Linked DNA regions of Homo sapiens: region 1 is linked to region 2. The links come from fine-mapping of genetic effects on gene expression. Tissue or cell type: sigmoid colon. Region 2 holds a variant in brackets; the other region holds the start of a gene. All regions are shown on one strand. Distances are from middle to middle. Region 1 holds the start of COL23A1 (collagen type XXIII alpha 1 chain). Region 2 overlaps COL23A1 (collagen type XXIII alpha 1 chain).

Region 1 (10,442 bases), 36 kb after region 2:
GAAGTCATTGAAAGGAAACTTTTTTTTGTTGTTTTGGGAGCCAGGAAATGTCAAGGAAACAAATGTAGCTATGATTTACACTGCATCTCCAGTTGTGCCATGGAATTCAAAAATAGGCATCTTAATTAAAACTGACAGCAGAGAGCAGCCCTGACAAGTAGACAAACCACCAAAGAGGCTGAAAAATCTCCATTTGACTCTGGGTTGACAGTATTTAACCAATATACAGAGTTGATAAGAGAAAAGGAAAATGCGTAAACTTTACTCGAGTCTCTGGGCTTTTCTTGTTTTCAAACTGATTGGTCTGGACAATGGAAGGCCAACAGCCAACAATAAATCCATTGTAAGCTGGCATGGTCTCCTCTGAATACAACTAAATATTTCTTTAATCCTTGCATTACATTTTTTACTGTATTATGAAAGCCATGTATTCTAAAGTTTTAAGCTTTTATAACATTGTAACTATAGGTATAAGATGGGGGGATTGATTACTTAGGCAACCTATTTAAAGCACTTTAAGAGGAAAATATTAGATTTTTTTGCATGAATATTTTCACATCATAGTGAAGATACGATCGTTCATGGCTCTTACTCAGAAATCTTGTTTATCTCTTCCTTTGTGTGCCATGGGAAGGGTCTTTAATGATCATGAGTTGACATGAATATTCCTTTCTTGTAGCTTCTGTATCTTCATTATCGGGCACATCAGCCGGTCCCAGAAAAAGTTATTTCACAGTTCTGTTCCCAAGGGAACAAAGAGAGTGGGTCCCATATTCACAGTGGCTTTTGTTGGCTTCTTTCCCCCTGACATTAAAGCCATGTATGGTTGGCAAGGATGTCTTTTCTTTAATGTGGACATGGTTTCTGCCTCTGGTTCTCTGGAAACAAGTTTGCTGTAGGACAAGCTGCCCGCACACTCACATACACGGAAAAGAGGCTTCACTGAGAACAAATCAGAACTGAAAAACAGCTTCAAGTACAAATGTTCTTTTCTTCCGAGATTTTGAGTTCAATATTTATTTGGCTTTCATATCTAATGGCTTGAAAAAGTATCTATACATCTAATTAGAGTTAATTACTCACTCCCTGTATGTGCCTCCCACAGTGCTCTCCTCCCAGCCAAGGAACTCATTGTTACCGGCCAGGCTGTGTACATTTCCCATCCAGTGACATTTACAAGAAGAATAGCTCCTAGCAGAAACAGGCTGGTACCCTAAGAGAGAGAAGCTGTCTCACAGGGGCCACCCAAACAACCAGAAGTTCAGCCCCAACTGCATTCATACTGCACCATCTCTGACTCTCCACTGGCGGGAAAACCCAGCCAGCTTACACTCCACGCACAGCATGCGCCTCAGATACCCAGCTGGGATTAGCGAGCAGGACCACGTGTGAATGGCACGGCAAATTCTCCAGAATACAGGGTTCCCTGGATTCTAAATTTTTCTCTTGCCTTTCTAATCAAGAACAGAGAGAGAGAGAGAACACACACCCTGTCCAATAACTCATTGTTCAAGCACTGTAGTTCACCCAGGTAAAATTCAGTGCAGCCGGGAGGGGGGAAGCCTGGGAGAGCAACTGCAGTCTCTCCCGCTGAAGTTCAGGACTCAAAAATCAACACTTCCCAGCAGTGGCTGCCTGCCCAGGATGCCCCTCCCTCCTAAAATAGACACAATTTGTAGTTCCTTGTAAAATGGTTGTATCAGGACTTCTGATTTACTCAATCAGGGCTTGCGGTTTATTTTTAGCAAATAAGAGAGGCCTCCTATGAGAAAGAGCAGCCACACTTATAGCGCTAACAGGTAGAAACTTTACTGGCCCTCTATAAATCAATTCAACACCCTGGTCTCCAGGCATTTGCCAAAAGCTAATGGGCGGCAATTATGAAACCATCGCCAGGAGTTTCCAGCAGGGCTGAGAGAGAGTTTTAAGTCTGCAGGCCCTTTCAAGGGTAAAATAGGAAATCATTTCATGAAGCAGCAATTTTACCCAGAACCCAGCTAGAAGAGATGTGATCCTAGCTTAAATTAAAGTGACTAAGAAACAGGTGGGGTGAACAAGGAGGTGTGGTACGCAAGTCATCTTCTCCCACTTTCCTTTGGAATCCAAAGGAACTCAACATTGGAAACACAGCTGGATACGTTAATAAAGATCCCAGCTGGGCAGTCTAGGGAATTGGGGGTGTACAGGCCAGTGCTCCCTCTCCTCCACCTTGAAACCCTGCCTGTTTTCACACAGCAATTGAGGATGCGCCCTTGGACAGCGACCTTGGGGTCTGGAGCAGCCATCTATCCCAGGAGAAGGAGGAAGGCTCGGCAGGGGAGGCTCTGGCCAGCCCACCAGGGCCTGTCCAGTTTCGTGGGGAGGGGAACTGCCGCACATGCCGCACACAAAAGGCGGAGGCTTTGACCAACATGCTGGGTGAGGGCTTGGAGGACCCAAAGGTGGCTCTTTCTTTGAAGACACACAGCAGCAATCTTAACCCTTAGAAGTGTCACAGAGCCTCATATGAGCTTTCAAGTAAGCTGTGGAAGTCGCGATTCCCAGGTAAGGGACGGGAAACTCCGGATGTCCTGCGAGCCCACACCCCAGATGGCACCGCCTGAAACCAGAATCCAGGTCCTCCACCCCCGATTGTTTCTCCTTCCTCTCATCTTACCAAGTCATGTGGGCGCCCCCACCCCCATCCCCGAGGCCTCAGTGCGACGGTGACCGCTCAGTCTTGGGGCCTGAGCTGCTGGAGACACACTGGAGCACAGCGGGGCCCAGCCCTCGGGCCTGTCTGAGGCTTTCCTCCGCCGTGACCACCGCCTCTCCAGGTGTACCAGCGTTGGTTAGGAACAGTAGGTGCTACTGGTCACAGTCACCAGATACTTCCCACGAGCCTCATCTTTATCCCCGACTCTGGCCGCCGGCGGGAAGCGGCGTGTCCGAGCGCACACCCCGTGGAGACTGACCCTAGGTCTGTTACTCCAAAGTCCCTGGTCTCTCCTTCCCCTTTCTCGCGGCCGCCTGCCTGGCACGGGACCCTGAGGCCGGAGCGGAGACCGCAAAACCCCTTGGGGCCGGCACCCCCTGCCTCCGCCTTGGCGCAGACGTGCCCATCTCTGGGACGGCCCCGAGCGCACGCAGCCGGCGGGCGACCCTCCTCCCAGAGACCTGCACGCTGCCCCCGGCTCCCAGCGTACCGCCACCCTCAACCCGACACACCCAAGTCCGCCCCAGCCACGCGCCAAGACGCTCACCTCCCGCAGCAGGCGCTCCAGGTGCGGCTCGGCCCAGGCGTCCAGGGCGCCTGGCGGCCCCGCGCGCCGCAGCAGCTCCCGCTCCTCCTCGAGCGCCGCCACCCGGCCCTGCAGCGCGGCCGCCTGGACACCCAGCAGCAGGCAGGCAGCCGCCGAGCCCACGGAGAGCAGCAGGCACAGCGCGCTCACCGCCCGGGACCCGGCCGTCGTCGCCGAGCGCCCTCCGCCGCCGCCGCCCGCCGCATTGCCCTTCCCCGCGTCGCCGCCGCCACCGGCGCGCTCGCCTGGGCCCATGGCGCGTTCGTCGCGCGTGGACTCTCCGAGGGGGCGGTGCTGCTGGGGCAGAGGCTGGGTGCGAGAGGAGCAGGCGGGACAGCCCGAGGCACGAGGTCCGCCGGGCGCGGGGGTTAGCCTCCGGGTAGCAGCGGATCGCCGCGCACGCCCCCTTCGCCGCAGCCAGCTCCTCCACAGCGGCCACTTTGGGCAGTTTCCTCTATGCAAATAGACCCTGCCAGAAAAGGAGCAGGGACCCACCCAGGGGAGGAGCGGCCGGGCTGGCCCCGCGCGGCGAGGGGGCGGGGGCGAGGAAGGAGCGAGCTCCTCGGAGCCACCCGTCGGCGCCGGGCTGATCCCACGCGCAGCGCGCACCTCTGCCCTCACCTAGCCCGGGCGCCGGCACCCGCCCCCGCACGCACCTCTGAGGCTTCCCCAGCCCAAGCCCGCACTGTGGACCCCAGAGGTCGGAGGGGAGCCCGGCGACACCGCGCCCCTTCTGCAGCCCACCCCTGGCTGGAGCACCCACCACTCGTGCCTTAGCACATTCCTCTAAACTTGTGAATTACCTTTCTGACACTTGTAAAAGTTCAAAACTTCAAATCCTGCAAAAAACTGAGTGGGTCTGTCCTCGGTGGTGGATTAGCGCCGCTTCGTGGCGGAAAGCGACCTCTGCGCACTCACATTTAGAGAGGCAGGGTCGAGATTGCGCCAAACAGAAATACGCCCCTTAGAATCTTCTCACGAGTTCTTAGCTGCCGGACTTCGGTGCGGGAAACAAAAATGGTAAGACTGTTTCTGGCCTGGAGAGGGCTTTTGAGAAAACTGAGACTATAACGAATGGGAAAGATTCAGAAAATGAACTTCAAGTCTTGTTCAACTGATGACTTAATTCTGTATTAGACGCACAACTTGGCCAAAAATTATGATCTAGTATGCACCACACTTAACCTGTACTGCGATTCTGCTGCAAATTTAAATCACAGGGCTGAGGCAAGAAGGCTGTGGCGTACAGCCTGGGTCCAGAGAACAGAATGAGTGGCACTAACAAGTCTTGGCAGGAAAGGGAAGAACTGCTGGAAGTCAGGCTGGGTTCAGATTCCTACCAGGCATATTCATGTCCTAAATGGGTCCCAAGTAACTCTTTCGCTAACTCCTGTAATACCTAAATGAAACAACAAACCAGCAGTTCAGATCTTTGTGATTTGAGTAACCCCCCAACCATTTTTTTTTAAGAAAAATAACGTTATATCCATCTTCCCTCTCACTCTGGATATCTTCTGGTTGTCTCATTTCTGTGGATACTCACCTTTTAGAACTGTTGAGTGCCTCTGGCTAACATGTTCCATCTCCTTCCCTTAATTCAGAGGGGAACCCCTGAGATGGCCGGGGGTTATGGTTGATAGACTTGGCTCTGTGCTAAAGTCTGGTGTATGCCCAATAGAATGAAAAGTTGGCCTCATTCTGAAAAGAGGCCAACACCCTCTTACAAGTCAGCACTACATTTCTTACAGGCACATAAACTGCACACCACCTACCTATGTTAATGTTACTGCATGTATTGTTTGCCATGTTCCTGAAGCTTCTGTGTATTGAAAAAGCCAAGCTCACTGGCCCCTGGGCCTCTGCCCTTGCCTACCACCTCACTACCTGCATTCCTGCTCTCAGATCGTTAAACGGCAAGCCCCTCCTCATCCTCCAGGTCAAGGTCCTCAACCTCACTGCTTCTAAAAGATCTTCCCAGACTGCCCAATTTAAGGTGGCCCACAAGATTAATCAGGGAATTGGGGCGGCTGAATTAAGATGGAAATACTGTCTGCAACTCATTCTAAAAGGCGAAAAAGAAAATGACTTACTTGTGTCCATTAGGGTCCTGGAAGAATAGATGGCATCCTCAGAGAGGGTGACTCAAGACAGCCTGAATGTAGAGCCACTTCACAAAGTGGAGATCAGAGGGGCCAGCAGGGGAGGCCGAAGCAGCACTCTGCGGGTATTGACAGTGGGAGGCCATTACCATCCCTAACTGGGAACCCTGGGGAACTTGGAGCTATAGAAGAGGGCTGCTCCACAGCACCTGTGGCCCTTGGTTAAGGGGAACAGCCTCTGCAAAGCCATGGCTTGAAAGGGAGGGAGCTCACAGAATAAATACTCAACTGCTCTCTCCTGCTCTCTGATCTACTGGGGCCTTCCAATGACCAAACCTCCAGGGCAGGGGCCAGCCTCCTAGAGGGCAGAGAGCAGAGGCAGAAGGAAGAAGGGCAGATCTTGAGGGGGAATAAAAGAATATCCACTAACCTATCGTGTGTAGCATCACCTAACAGGTAGACAGCACTTACACCAATCCCGCTACTGCTGCCTATGAATGGCTAACCTGTCAGCAATAGACTAAACAAGGTACTCCTCAGGCAGACTAACTGGCCACGTGGTGGCAAAACAGCTACTTTGGATTCCCTCCTTCCTGCAAGGACCAATGGTTTGCCCCTCACAGGGACAGCACCAGGTGTGGGCTTGTCTTTCCTGCCTGCAGAGCCTCAGCCAGCATTGCTATCCTTACAGAATGCCCAACCCACAGGTACAGGATCTCACACACCACCACACCCAACCAGGGCACCCATTTTACAGTAAAGGTCTGGGGCTGAACCCATGGACCAAGGAATCCACTGGTTGTGTTGCATCCTGCACTGGTCAGGAGCAACCAGCCTCACAGAATACTGGAACTGCCTTCTGAAGGCACAGATGAAGCACCAGCTCAGGGGCCACTCCCTGAAGGATTTAGTGCCATCTCTCAGGATGTAGTGTGTGTGTTAAATCAGGAACCTCTATATGATGCTGTGCTCCCAGTAAGAATACGTGAGTCCATGAACCCACAGGTAGAAGCACTAGCCATCCCTCCCCATGACCCCATGGGGGATGTTATGCTTCCTGTTAGAGAGTTGGAGGTCCTAGTTCTCAAAGGGGTTACATTCTTGCCAGGGGACACAGTAGGGGTTCCATTAAACTATAAGCTATTGCTGCCACCCAGGGCACTTTGAACTCTGTATATAGGGACCTGAAATCAAGACAGCACCATTTGGCAGAGGCAATTGACCCTAATGAGGAGGAAGAGGTAGGGCTGCTTTCATACAGGGTGCAGGAAAGAATAGGCCAGGCACCTCATGGTACGCCTTTGCCCAATTGCAACTGGAACAAAAATGTGTAGCAACCCTGACCTGATGATCTACAAACGCTCAGACTCTTGGAGATAAAGGGAGCATATCAAACTATTTTATAAAATAGGGATTATTTGGGTCAGATAGGATGGACAACCACTGAAGAAGGAATGTTAATAATGAAAAGGTTCAAATATGTTCAAACTGCTGTTCAAGAAGGCATGGATATGTAATCCAGTTTATAAAAATTTTCAGCAGAAAATTGTTTAAATTAAGCCACAAGGTTTAAAGGGATAGCAAAGGGTGTTGTGTTTTTTTTATATAAGGTAATGTTATTTAAAAAAATTTTTTTAAGAAGGCAATGTTAAAAAAGGCACCAGGTTTTGATTCAATGCCCAGATTCTAGTTCTGGCTTCACTAATATCTCACAGTATAAACTGAAACAAGCTATAGACCCTCACTTTTTATTTATTTATTTATTTATTATTATTATTTTTTTTAGAGGTGGGGGTCTCGCTATATTGCCCAGGCTGCTCTTGAACTCCTGGGGTCGAGCAATCCTTCTGCCTCGGCCTCCCAAATGCTGGGATTACAGGGGTGAGCCACCATGCCTGGCCACCTTTTTGTTTTTAAAACAGAGATGTTGACATGGACCAGATTTACTATCTGACTATTTAAAACAACTAAAAAGCCAAAAAAAAAAAAACTGTATAAAAACAGCAGTTTTCGAGACACCAGACATCAGGCATTAAAGGCCAGTGATCCTTTGGAGACAGGAAACAAAGTGAACCCAAGGACTGCCCTGGGTTCCTACTCTGGAGAGATTTTCCAGGACACAGTGCAGGTAGAGCCAGCTGAAGGTGAAGAGAGAAAGCTGAGTCCAGGGAGGCCAAAGCAGTTAGAATTTACAGAGGAGAGGACAGGAGAGGGAAGAGCTGCACAGAGAATTAGAGATCTGCAGCTGGTCCCCCTGAAGCCTTCACCTGAGGACTCACCAGCATCCATGTGTGGGGAAACTACCAGAGGCCAGGACGGAATAACCCAAAAGGATTAGACTCTACAAACCCCACAGCTCACACAAAGCCAGGCATAGTTCTTCCTACCAACCAGTGTGGAAAATCTGGTAACTCAGAGAACGCTGGGTAGAGTACTCAAAAGGTTTTTGCCTCGGTAGTGGGGAAAATACTAGCCCTAGACTAATTGCTGCCCTGGTCCTGTCTAACAAAGCTTAAAACCCAAACCTGAAGAGATCAAACTAATTCAAATACTTAATCATGTCCCACAATAAAGCACACAGAATTTTACCCAATAAGGTAAAACAAAAGGTAAAATTACCAGGCATGCAAAGCAGCAAGAAAATATGACCCATAATAGAAGAAAATGCAATCAATCAAAACCAACCCAGAAATAACAGAGATAACAGAATTAGTAGTAAGCAAAGCTATTAAAAGCTGTAACTGTATTCCATATGTTCAAGGAACTAAAGGGAAGATTTAACATGTTAAGTAGAGGTATGAAAGATATCTTTTAAAAAGACTTAAAATTCTAGAAATTAAAACGATAATGTTTGAGGTGAAAAATACATTGGATCACATTAAAGGCAAATTAGACACTTGGGGCAAAAGATCAATGAACTTAAAAATATATCAATATAAGCAAAATGAAACAGTGAGAAAAAGACAAAAAAATGAAGAGCGTCAGTGATCTGTGCAATCACTTCAAGTGGCTTAATGTATGTATAACTGGAGTCCCTGGGGAAGAGGGCAGAAAAAAATGTTTGAATAATGGCTGAAAAACTTTTCCAAATTTGATAAGAACTATAAACCCACACACATATCCAATAATTTCAAGAAACCCATGCACAAGAAACATGAAGACAACTGCACAAGCCACATTATAATCAAAATGCTTGAAATGAGCAAAAGAAAACAATGTAACCAGAAAAAGAGACACAAATACAGTAACAAGGATAACAGCAGATTTCTTTGTTGGAAACAATGCAACCCAGAAGATAGGTAAGCAACATCTTTTGTCAACCTAGAATTTTATACCCAGCAAAATTACCTTTCAAAAAACAAAGGCTAAAGAGAGACTTCTAGACATACAAAAGCTGAAAAAATTCATCCACCATCAGACCCACAATTTTAAAAATGTTAATGGAAGTAATTCAGGCAGAAGGAAAACCATGCCAGATGGAAATATGAACTTACACAAGGACTGAAGAGCATAGAAAATACTAACTCTGTGGGTAAATATAGGCTTCTTTTCTTATTATTTAAATCTCTTTTAAAGATAATCAATGGTTTAAAGCTATATATATACACACACACATATACACATGCATATATACATATATACGTATGTATACACATATACGTATATAGATATGTATGTATATATAGTGGGTTTTTAACATGGACGGTTTTTAACAAGGATGTATACTATAAACTCTAACGCAACTGCTAAACACACACAATAGTTATAGCTAATAAGCCAGCAAAGGAGATAAAGTGGAGTTACAGAAAAATAATCCAAAATAAGGCAGAGAAAGAGGAAAATAGTAATAAAGAACAAATGGAACAGAAAATATCAAGATGGCAGATCTAAACCAAACCACATCAACAACTACACTAAATGTAAGTGGTCCAAACATAACTAAAAGGCAAAGATTGTTAGATAGGATAAAAAAGCAATATCCAACTGTATACTGCCTATAAGAAACATTTTAAAGACACAAAAAATTAAAAGTACACACATAGAAAAAGGTATTGTGCTAACATTAAAATCGAGATAATCTCTATTTGCACTCACTCATTTATATAATTCCTATAGGGTGAAAAGCAAAATAACAGGAAAATTATTTGTAGGCTATAGAATACTGTATAAACCTAGGGGGAATAGATCAAGAAACGGTGAAAATAATAGCTTCTATTCACTAGCACTTTATGTAAATGATTTCAATTAATCCTCACAACCCTCAGGAAGTTGTTAGTACACCACTTCAAAGAAGAGGAGACTAGAGAGATTATGTAACTTGTCCACATAATACAGGTGACAACAGAGTCTGAATCCAACGAACTCTGCTGGTAAGCAGACCATATTGTTCTCATGTAGTTGTTGTGAGGACACTCTAAATATTTAAATGTTTCTAGAGTAATCTGAAAAGTATAAATAGTGAGGTCTTTTAAAAGTAAACTTCCCTATCAACGAGATACTCTAAATATCATAAAGGCTTGCTTTGGTCATTCTCAAAACCGTACTTCCTCATGTTGTCTTTAGCTAGGGGTAAACCAAGAAGCTTTTGAAGACACTTGATTTTTTCTGCTTTAAAAACTGTTTATAATGGAAAAATTTTTAAGTCACCTGAGTGGCTGGGGCAGGGGGATCTTCCAAAAATCTATTAAACTTTACTTCATTTTGTTACACTGACTGCTGGCCTATGACATTCCAGCCTCAAAGGGTATTTAATTCAGGTGTTCTTTATTAAATCTATGCCTCAGTCTTTTTTTTTTTTTTTTTGAGATGGAGTTTTGCTCTTGTTGCCCAGGCTGGGGTGCAATGGTGCAATCTCGGCTCATTGCAACCTCCACCTCCGAAGTTCAAGCGATTCTCCTGCCTCAGTCTCCCGAGTAGCTGGGATTACAAGCACCCACCACCACACCCAGCTAATTTTTGTATTTTTAGTAGAGACGGGGTTTTGCCATGTTGGCTAGGCTGGTCTCAAACTCTTGACCTCAAGTGATCCACCCGCCTTGGCCTCCCAAAGTGCTGGGATTAC
Region 2 (10,442 bases):
TAGTTTTTGCCCAAATATGTAAACTAAAGAAGATTTTTCTGTCTATACAGAAAATTTAACCTTTTAAGCTTAAAATGTTCAAGGAAATGTTTTCTTCTATGGCAAGGTTTTTCAACCTGGGCACTACTAACATTTGGGACCGGATAGTTCTTTGTGGTGGTGGCTGTCCTGGGCTTTGTAGGACACTCAACAGCACCCCTGCCTCTACCTAGTCCATATGCCAGTAGCACCCACAAAGTATGATCAACTACAAATGTCTCCAAATACTGCCATGTGACCTCCTGGGGGCAAAACAGTCCCAGTTGAGAAGCACGGCTTTATGGTTTCTGACTTCAGTGCCAGGCTTATAAAATCTGTTTCTACTGCGTAATTTTAAAAAGTGATGTATCGTATTTTTGTCTAGCCAGCCATGGTTGTATTTTTTACATTTAGATCTTCAATCCATGTGGAATATACCCCGGCATAAGAAGTCAGGTAAGAAGCCAGATAGTATTACTGCACTGAACCTGTCCCCCAGGAAAGGCCGCTACAGCATGTGGGTGAGCTCCTGGCATAGGGGGGCGTGTGATAATGACACCCCACAGAGTAAAAGGCTGCACCTGTCACTCAATAGTTGGCACGGAGTTGGCCAAGCTGGGGTCAAGACAGCTCTGGTCTTGTCTTCCCAGAGTTTCAGGGATTCTCCACTACAATTAAACCTGATGGTGCTCTGTAAGTACTGGGTCAGTGGCAAATGTTCTAGAAATCTGTTTTCTAACAGATAGTCTACCTTTCACAGAATCTTCATCATCTCCCCAAACCAACAGCAAACCGCTTGATTCTGGAACCATCTGGAAAATTCTGAGGGTCTTCCATTTTTGGAGAGAAACACCAGAGCAGGTGGTTAACTTTGTGTGTCACTGCTCTTGGTTTGAACTTTTGTGTGCTTTCTAGTAATTTTAAAATATATATTAATATATTATATGTTATATATTATATTAATATATTTTATATTTATATATTTAAATATATATAAATTATTTTTCTTTTACATTCCTGTTCAATTTCTATAGAATTTAATGAGTATAATGGGCTCCATCTAGTGGTCACAAGAACATCTCCAGATTCCAATGGTCAGCACAGAAACTTCAAGATCTTTATTTATAGGACATGACACATTTTATAATTGATAGACTCAGGTGGTTAAACTATGCTTTAAGAGAAGACTTCTAATTATTTTTTTCCTTTCATCAGTGGGTCTTACAAATTGGTTCTTAAGGTCCACTGCCCAAAACCATGCTTACCATCTTCTCTTCCAAATTGATCCCTCTTTGGGGATTTCCTGTTTCTGCGCAGCTTCCCCTCCCCAAAGGCATGCTGCTTCAGGCTTCTCTGTCTTCTCCTGTGCCCACCCACCCAGTTTGTGAGTTCTGTCCACCACATGACCCAGTGCCTCTCACAGCTGTTCCCGGCTATCAATTCTCATGGCCATTCGACAGGGCGTTATCAACCCTCCTCCCCGTGCCTGGCACCGTGCTGGATTTAGGGGATGCTGCAGTGAACCAGGCAAGCTGTCTCCTGCCCTGAGCACCCCCTCAGGGGCCCCTCTGTTGGAACCAAGTATGATCTAGTCTGTCCTTCATGCTGTTTCCAGAGCCCTCGTCTTAAAGCTAAATTCCACTCAGACACCATCAACTGTGTCCCATGGAATAAAGCCTCAATCTCTCCAGACCCTGGACTCACCCTCCCCTCCCACTGCCACCTTCCAAGCAAACAAGAGTTCCCACCGGTGCTCGGAGCTCCCCTCTGCCTCCACTCAGGATGTCAGTCTCTCAGAATGCATCCCCCATCCCAGGTGGCTAACCTGACAACCAGTCTTCAAAACCTTGCCCAATTATCATCTTCCCCAGGAAGGACCCTCCTCCAACCCAGATCCTCCTGACCCGAAGTGATCTCTCCTTGTAATTTCTGTAGGACTGGTGTTTCCTCAGGGCTCATCCTATTCTCCGCATCTGTTATGGGTCTTGTACCTCTCCTGCCTTCCTCTAACAACTGGGTCTGCAATTGCCTCTAAGAATCTTAGTCAATAGCTCCCCCAGGACCAGCACAAAATAGGGTAGGAGAGACGAATGAATGAATGAATGAATGAACAAATACCTATGCATAGTGAAGCGAGGGAATGGCAACCAGCCTCCAGAGTATTCTCGTGCCCCCCAAAAAATCAGACACACAAATGACCTCCTTTCACTTGGCAGAGTCTGACATACCAAGGTAGCTGCCTTATAGGCCACTCAATTTTGCCATAAACTCAAGTCGACTGAGATTTAATGCTTATAAATATATACGTGTATCATTTTAAAAAATTCTATAAAAAATAATCCCAAAAAGGGTAACAATTTCTTGCATTGAAATCCTATGAGAGGCTGGGCAAGGTGGCTCACCCCTGTAATCCCAGCACTTTGGGAGGGGATCTTTTGAAAGCAGGAGTTCGAGACCTGCCTGGGCAAAAAAGTGAGCTCCTAACTCACCAAAAAAAATTAAAAAAAAAAAAAAAAAAATTTTTTTCAGACAGAGTCTCACTCTGTCGCCAGGCTGGGGTGCAGTGGTGCGATCTTGGCTCACTGCAACCTCTACCTCCCGGGTTCAAGTGATTCTCCTGCCTCAGTCTCCTGAGTAGCTGGGACTACAGGCGCGTGCCACCACACCTGGCTAATTTTTGTATTTTTAGTAGAGGATTTCACCATGTTGGCCAGGATGGTCTTGATCTTCTGACCTTGTGATCCCCCCGCCTTGGCCTCCCAAAGTGCTGGGATTACAGGCGTGAGCCACTGCGCCTGGCCAGGAAAATTTTTTTTAATTAGCCATGGTGGCACACGCCTGTGGTCCCAGCTATTATCCCGGCTGAGGCAGGAGGATCACTTGAGCTCAGGAGTTCAAGGTTGCAGTGAACCGTGACTGCACCACTGCACTTCTGCCTGGCCGACAGAGTGAGATCCTATCTTAAAAAAAAAAAAAAAAAAAGTCCCAAGACAGCGTGTGCCCTTCGCTAGGCTCTTTTCCAGCCAACAAAGGCAGTAAGGCAGTAAACAGGCTGAATATGAGCAACTTTTACCACTTCTGTTCCGCTCTGTGACATTTTCCATAAACTATCAACGAAATGTATCAGGTTCTGTATAACTTCCACATTGTGCTTTCTACGGTCCTAAGTGGAGTTTCACTCCTCTACGCAAACTGCCAAATGTTTTGATGGAGCAGAGGATTTCTGACTTGCATTAAACTCTGGATTATTATTCATTTCTGGAAAATCACCCGACATTGCAAGTACAGTGCCCATCCTTGGAAACCAAGCACAATGTCTCTGCAATATTCTGCAAGGATCCAAAAAGACACAAAAAGAAAACGAAAAGGATGATACCATTCTGGAATGTTCCTGACAATGTCCAGGCAGTTTGAGCCTGGTTAGTAACAAGTGCAAACAGCGTGACGGGCAGAAGCCCAGCTCTGCTCGAGGCCTTCTGGGCACGTGGGTGGCTGATGAGGGTTCACGGCCACACACTTTCCTTTTCTGTTTCTCTCACTCCAGCATCGCCAGCATCTTCATACCCACGTCCTAGAAGAACGTGCCAGTAAAGTCTGCCAAGCCCTCGCTCTTCCCCTCCTGAAGATTCCCAGTGGCCTCCTACTCTGTGTCTCTTCTCCCTTCCTCTCTGGCAGCTCCCGACTGATGGCGACGGACCTAACAACAGACAAGCTCTGAGGACGCAGTGCCAGGCCTCGTTCTAAGCTGTCTGCACATGTGAACCCATTTGATCCTCAAAACCATCCCATGACACAGCTACTCTCAGAAACCCCACTTCACTTCACAGGTGGAAAACCGAGGCACAAGGAGGATAAGTGTGAGGTCACGGAGCCGGTGAGCAACAGAGAATCGGGCCACGCAGCCTAGATGGGAAGTCAACACACTTTCCCCTGGGCCACGCTGCCTCTTGGTGTGTTTTATTTTTTCCTTTCTTCTTTTTTTTTTTCTTTGAGATGGAGTCTCGCTCTGTCACCCAGGCTGGGGTGCAATGGCTCAATCTTGGCTCACTGCAACCTCTGCCTCCTGAGTTCAAGCAATCCTCCTGCCTCAGCCTCCTAAGTAACTGGGATTACAGGCGTGTGCCACTATGCCCAGCTAATTTTTGCATTTTTAGTAGAGACGGGGTTTCGCCATGTTGGCCAGGCTGCTCTCGAACTCCTGACCTGAGGTGATCTGCCCACTTCGGCCTCCCAAAGTGCTGGAATTACAGATGTGTGCCACCACGCCCAGCCCTCCTGGTGTGCTTTAAGTGGAGCCAACCCTTTGGTTACACCTTTGCAAACCACCTGGCGGTGACTGGGCCAGCCGTCACCGGAAGAGTCTGGTCACCTACTGCTTGTGCCCAGCTATATTCGTTCTCTCTTCTGGGAAAAGATCCTAATTTTTCATGAAGGAACCACCCTCCCCGACACCACATGCTTCTGGTATTGCCAACCCTCCCCCACTTTGTCTCCCCTGGTTCCAAGAATGGTCACATGATCCACCAATGACCTGGCCCATCAACGTGTCCCATGCTCCAAGTCAGTGCAATTTTTCAAGGAGAGGCACCTGCCCCAAGCCAGGCAAACTGGGATCCATTCTGGGACGTAAAAAAAAAAATCATGGTAAAATACATATAACATAAACCTGAGCATTTTAAAGCACGAAGTTCCAAGATTAAACACAACAACCATCCCCTCTATCCACTTCCAGGACTTTTCATCTTTCCAAACAGAAACGAGGTGCCCCTTAAACAATAACTCCCTGGGTTAGTGTCTGGGTGTGGACATAAAAAGGTACCACAGACTGTGCGGCTTAAAACAGCAGAAATGTGATAAGGTGCCGTCAGGCTGATTTCCTTCTGAGCTCATGGCTCAGCAAAAGTGTCTTCTCCACGTGTCTTCACATGGCCTGCCCTCTGCATGGGTCTACGTGTCCAAATCTCCTTTTATTACAGGGACAGCGGTCATGAGGGCCCACCCTAAGGCCTCATGTCACCTACTCTCCAAGGGAACATTGTTATCTCCAAACACAGTCCCATTCTGAAGCCCTGAGGGTTAGGACTTCAAGATACGAATATGGGAGGACACAGTTCAACCCATAACACTCCCCATGCCCCAATTCTGAGACTTTCGGGAAAGAACAGTGCTGTATCTGCTGGGGTTGCTGAGCACATGTGATATACACCTAGAGCTATACTGGCGGCCACCTTCCCAAGCATAGGTCACTCCAGCAGAGGCTGTCTGAAGACAAGCGGAGAAGAGCTGAGAGAGGAGAGCGAGCCCTGAGCCCAGATGGGCC[T/C]GAAGCCAGCTGCACCTCAGACCTTTCCATTTCTAGTTGTCTGCACTAAAAATTTCCTTTTTCGCTTTATTAGTGCAGGGTGATCAGAACACTAATTAATGTTCTGATGCTTGTAACCCAAAGAGTGAGTGAATGCAAGGGCCACAGTGACCCTTGGCTCCAGGACACGTGGAGTGGGACCACAGGGCAGTTATTTACAAGGCGGAGTCAAGACTCAAGTCCAGGTTCCCAGGCTCCAAGGTGCCGGCCCTCACCAGTTCCCTGGGATGCCCCCGAGTCACTACTGTTCACAGACGGTGGAGGCCGGACCATAGGGCAGCTCCCAGGGGGAGGCTTCAGGACCCACCTGGCCAGAGCCTCCCTGCAGGAACCTGTGTTTGCTGCGGTAAAGCCCAGCCTCTCCCCACAGACTGAGGGCTCCCGTCCTTCAGTCAATACCCTCAGGCCTGCAGCGTGCCTGGGAGAACAAAGCACGAGGAAGTCAGACAACAGGCTACACAGCAGGCCTTCTTCCCTCCATCACAGCACACACGCAGCCCTGTCTGAATAACACAGGGTCGGAAATGACCCAAACGTCCTTGGCGGGGACTGGCCAAGTGCATTACAGGACATTCCAACAGCATGGCCAGATTCTTTCCTGGACCAAAACAAGGCAGCAGCTATCTCGGATACACAGACGGGCACAGACCACCTCAAAGAGAAAGGGCAAACCCATGAACAAGGCAGCCCATGAAAAACAATGCGGGATAACTGTTGCGTTATTAAAAAAAAAGAAGGAGGAGGAGGAGTTACTACTTTAAAATTAGTTGAAATGGGCCAGGCATGGTGGCTCACGCCTATAATCCCAGTACTTTGGGAGGCCGAGGCGGGTGTATCACCTGAGGTCAGGAGTTCGAGACCAGCCTGGCCAACATGGTGAAACCCCGTCTCTAATAAAAATACAAAAATTAGCTGGGCGTGGTGGCAGGCATCTGTAGTCCCAGCTACTTGGGAGGCTGAGGCAGGAGAATTGCTTGAACCTGGGAGGTGGAGGTTGCAGTGAGCCAAGATCGCACCACTGCACTCCAGCCTGGGCAACAAGAACGAAACTCTGTCAAATTAAAATAAAATAAAATAAAATAAAATAAAATAAAATAAAATAAAAAAGCTGAGTGTGGTAGCTCATGCCTGTAGTCCAACACTTTGGGAGGCTGAGGCAGGTGGATCACTTGAGGTCAGGAGTTGGAGACCAGCCTGGCCAACATGATGAAACCCCGTCTCTACTAAAAAAACAAAAATTAGCCAGGCATGGTGATGGGAGCCTGTAATCTCAGCTACTCGGGAGGCTGAGGCAGGAGAATCGCTTGAATACGGGAGGCAGAGGCTGCAGTGAGCTGAGATCGCGCCATTGCACTCCAGCCTGGGCAACAAGAGTGAAACGCTATCTCAAAAATAAATAAATTAAAAAAATGAAAAGTAAAGTAAAATAAAATAAGACACAGGTCTGCCGTGGCAAAAAATTACCACAAGCCCTCCCAGTTCTAGGGGCAAGAAGTCCAAGGTGTCTGCGGGGCGGGCTCCTCAGGGAGAGTCCCTCCCACACCCCTCCATAGCTCTGGTGGCTGCAGGCATTTTGGTGTTTCTTGGCTGGCACACGCAGCACGCCAATCCCCACTCCGCTGTCACCTAGCCCTCTGGTCTGTGCGTCTCTGCCTCAAATCTCTCCTTGCCTCATTTAAGGACAATTGGCATTGGATGTAGACACACCCTAAATGCTGAATGACCTATTCTGAGATCCCTAATTACACCCGCAAAGACCCTATTTTCAAAGGTCACATTCACAGGTACTGGGGGTTAGGACTTGGACATATCTTTTGAGGGCGACAGGATTCAACCCACTACACTATTTTATTGAGGATGGGTGCAAGGCTCACCAGAGCCAGCTCAGGGCCCCCCGCCAGTCCTCCTGCCAGCGATATCCACTGGCTGGGGCGAGAGAGAAGCCCCTGCCACCACACTCAGCCTCGCAATGGGTGGCACATCCAGAAGAGCCGCCCCTCCTCTGGCCTTCCTTATCTGCCTGCTGCATGCTAGGATCCAACAAAAGATTCCGCTGACTCCCCGGGCTGCTAGGTGGGGAGCTGCGGCCAGCTATAATCAGACAGGGAGCCCCACTGCAGAATGTGGTCTATGTCTCCACACTCCAAAAGCCCGAGGGACACGCTGGAGAGCCTTGGAGCCTTGGAGCCGGGAAGAATAGGAATGAGTTAGGACTTCTGGTGTTGGAGACAGGGCCTCTGTTCTTTGTAAGACAAGGGGCTCATGGGCCGGCCTGCTGGGGTTTAGTGTTGATGAAGGTTCTGGTCTAAGGGGCTCTCGAGGTGACAGGAGAGAAAGTGCAGGCATGGACAGGGGTGTGCTGAGGGGTCTGGCTAGGGTCGTCATGCTGCACCCCAAGGCCACACTGACCACACCTACCAGGATGGCCTCCATCACAGCCTGGAGTTCCTGGGACAGCATCAGCACGGTGCTGATGATCAGGGCTCCCCAGGGAGCCGGGGAGTCTACCAAGCCTTCCTCTCGGTGGGACTAGAGGCTCTGACCAGCCCTTCAGTCCCCCATGGTCTTCCCAAGACCTTCTTGGGGGCCTCTTTCTAGAGGAGTTCAGGACCCCTGTTCCCTGCTCCCCACTCCTGATGGAAGGCAGGACACAGGTCCATCTGTAGTCACTGGCTTTAACTTATACCTTCTCCATAACCTCAGAAAGCCCCCCAGAGCCCGCTTCAAGATGTTATCATTTACTGATAAAGACCCTCAGTGCTAGTAAGGGGCAGACCCAAGATGTGGCTCCAGTTCTGATTGATCCGGGAGCTCCATGCCAGCTTGTGTCCCCCTTCTCCCACTCTCCAGCCATCATCTGTCTTGGGGACTTTCAAGCCTTCTGTTAGTAACCCACAGCAAGAAACCCATCTCACACCATCCAAGTCCAATCTACAAATATTAATAGCCAAAACCAAAATTTCACTCGGGCCTTTTTTATTCCAGACTTCTGTGCCAGCTCACAATTTCATGCTGGTGGTTGCTGGCGGCAACCCACTAAACGGATTTGGTGTCTCACAAATGGGGCGTGACTCCCAGTTCAAAAGACACACACAGGTATGCACCCAGTAACACTCAGAAAGAGGGGAGCGAAAAAGAAGGACTGTTGGCATTTTACACATTTTGCAGATCATCTAAAAATCCATTTGTGGATGTGAATTTTTCCTCCCATGTAATTGCAATTTCTGACTTTTTTTTTTTTTTGATGGAGTCTCGCTCTGTCACCCAGGCTGGAGTGCAATGGTGCAATCTCGGCTCACTGCAACCTCCACCTCCCAGGATGAAGCAATTCTCCCACCTCAGCCTCCCAAGTAGCTGTGACTACAGGCATGCGCCACCATGCCTGGCTAATTTTTTATATTTTTTGTAGAGACAGGGTTTCACCACGTTGGCCAGACTGCTCTCGAACTCCTGACCTCAGGTGATCCACCTGCCTCGGCCTCCCAAAGTGCTGGGATTACAGGCGTGGGCCACCGCGCCCGGCCACAGTTTCTGACTTCTTGATCTGTGAATGGAGTCATTCCCTTGTCAAATCCTCTTTCTCGTATTAAAATCTCAGAGGTCCTATAAAGGCTAGCTCAAGCTCAACCATAAAATTCTTCTCCCACCTGGCCCTCAGAGACGGAATTTTCACACCATGAGATATACCTTTGCAGAAATCTCGGGGCATCTCCCAACCCTGGGATGTTTTCAGTGAGTTTGGTTTCCGGACACTTGGCTAATGGAAGGAATGAGAGAGAAGACAAGGGACACTGCGCAGCTCCTGTCTTCTCTGGACCAATAACAAAAGTCACCTTTCCCTGCATGTCGAGAAGTCTGAGACACATCACTCAAAAGCCACCTTTCCCTGCACGTCGAGAAGTCTGAGACACATCACCCAAAAGCCACCTTTCCCTGCACATCGAGAAGTCTGAGACACATCACCCAAAAGAGACCTTTCCCTGCACGTCGAGAAGTCTGAGACACATCACCCAAAAGTCACCTTTCCCTGCAGGTCGAGAAGTCTGAGACACATCACCCAAAAGTCACCTTTCCCTGCACGTCGAGAAGTCTGAGACACATCATCCAAAAGTCACCTTTCCCTGCACGTCGAGAAGTCTGAGACACATCACCCAAAAGCCACCTTTCCCTGCATGTCGAGAAGTCTGAGACACATCACCCAAAAGAGACCTTTCCCTGCACATCGAGAAGTCTGAGACACATCACCCAAAAGTCACCTTTCCCTGCACGTCGAGAAGTCTGAGACACATCACCCAAAAGTCACCTTTCCCTGCACGTCGAGAAGTCTGAGACACATCACCCAAAAGTCACCTTTCCCTGCACGTCGGGAAGTCTGAGACACATCACCATTTTCCACTCATCCACTGGTATCAGACACCATTCTAAGGGAGGGTCATTCTAACCCTGAAAACACCAGTGTTAGAGACCACACACTGGGCCATGGCCTGTGCAAAGCTCCCCTGAGGACACCCAGGAGACCTGTTATGAGCCTGGATTTGAGCCATGTGGATTAGAAGTCAACAATTCCTGGTTTCATTCACAGCCATCCTGGTCTGCACCAGCAAAACCAAAGAGAGTCTATGATAATTTGAATAATTCAGACCTCATTGCCTGTTTCCTTCCTCTGCCTCCACCGCAAGAAATGAAAACAAGAAGGCTACGTCCACTATTTATCTACCTTCTGCACGTCTGACATAGAGCTCTGGTTGCAATGTTGGTACAGTGGTGGCAACTGGGGTTCCAGGCTGTCACCTCCCATCAGTTCACACCCCTTTCTCCATCTTTGAAATGGGCCAGCTGCTACTTCCCTACCATCTAAATCTTCAGGCAGCTAAGTCATCTCCGACAATGTCTTAGCTCCTCCACCAATACCACCCAGCAAACCGAGTCCGTTTACTTTGCTGGAAACCGACCAGAGAGCCTGCCAGGGTCAATGTGGGAAAGAAAGGCCCCAGGCCAGTGCACGAAGACGACAGCCTGACACCCCAGTCCACCTTCCGGACCATGCTGTTCTCAGCAATCCCAA

Evidence for each region. PIP is the estimated chance that this variant, and not a neighbour inherited with it, causes the effect.
Region 1: COL23A1 starts here. The variant in region 2 is fine-mapped to the expression of COL23A1 in sigmoid colon (GTEx, PIP above 0.99).

The regions. Positions count from the first base shown.
Region 1 is chr5:178,586,662-178,597,103 of GRCh38, forward strand. It overlaps COL23A1 (collagen type XXIII alpha 1 chain), which reads right to left and starts at 3,732. Exons shown (of 29, transcript NM_173465.4): 1 at 3,243-3,732. The coding sequence starts at 3,536. RefSeq lists an enhancer at 2,178-3,078 and a silencer at 3,734-3,933.
Region 2 is chr5:178,550,189-178,560,630 of GRCh38, forward strand. The region is part of intron 2 of COL23A1 (collagen type XXIII alpha 1 chain); the gene reads right to left. Among named protein-coding and RNA genes, the nearest start is that of COL23A1, 35 kb to the right of the region's middle. RefSeq lists an enhancer at 3,845-4,403. The variant T/C (reference allele first, on the strand shown) is at 5,339.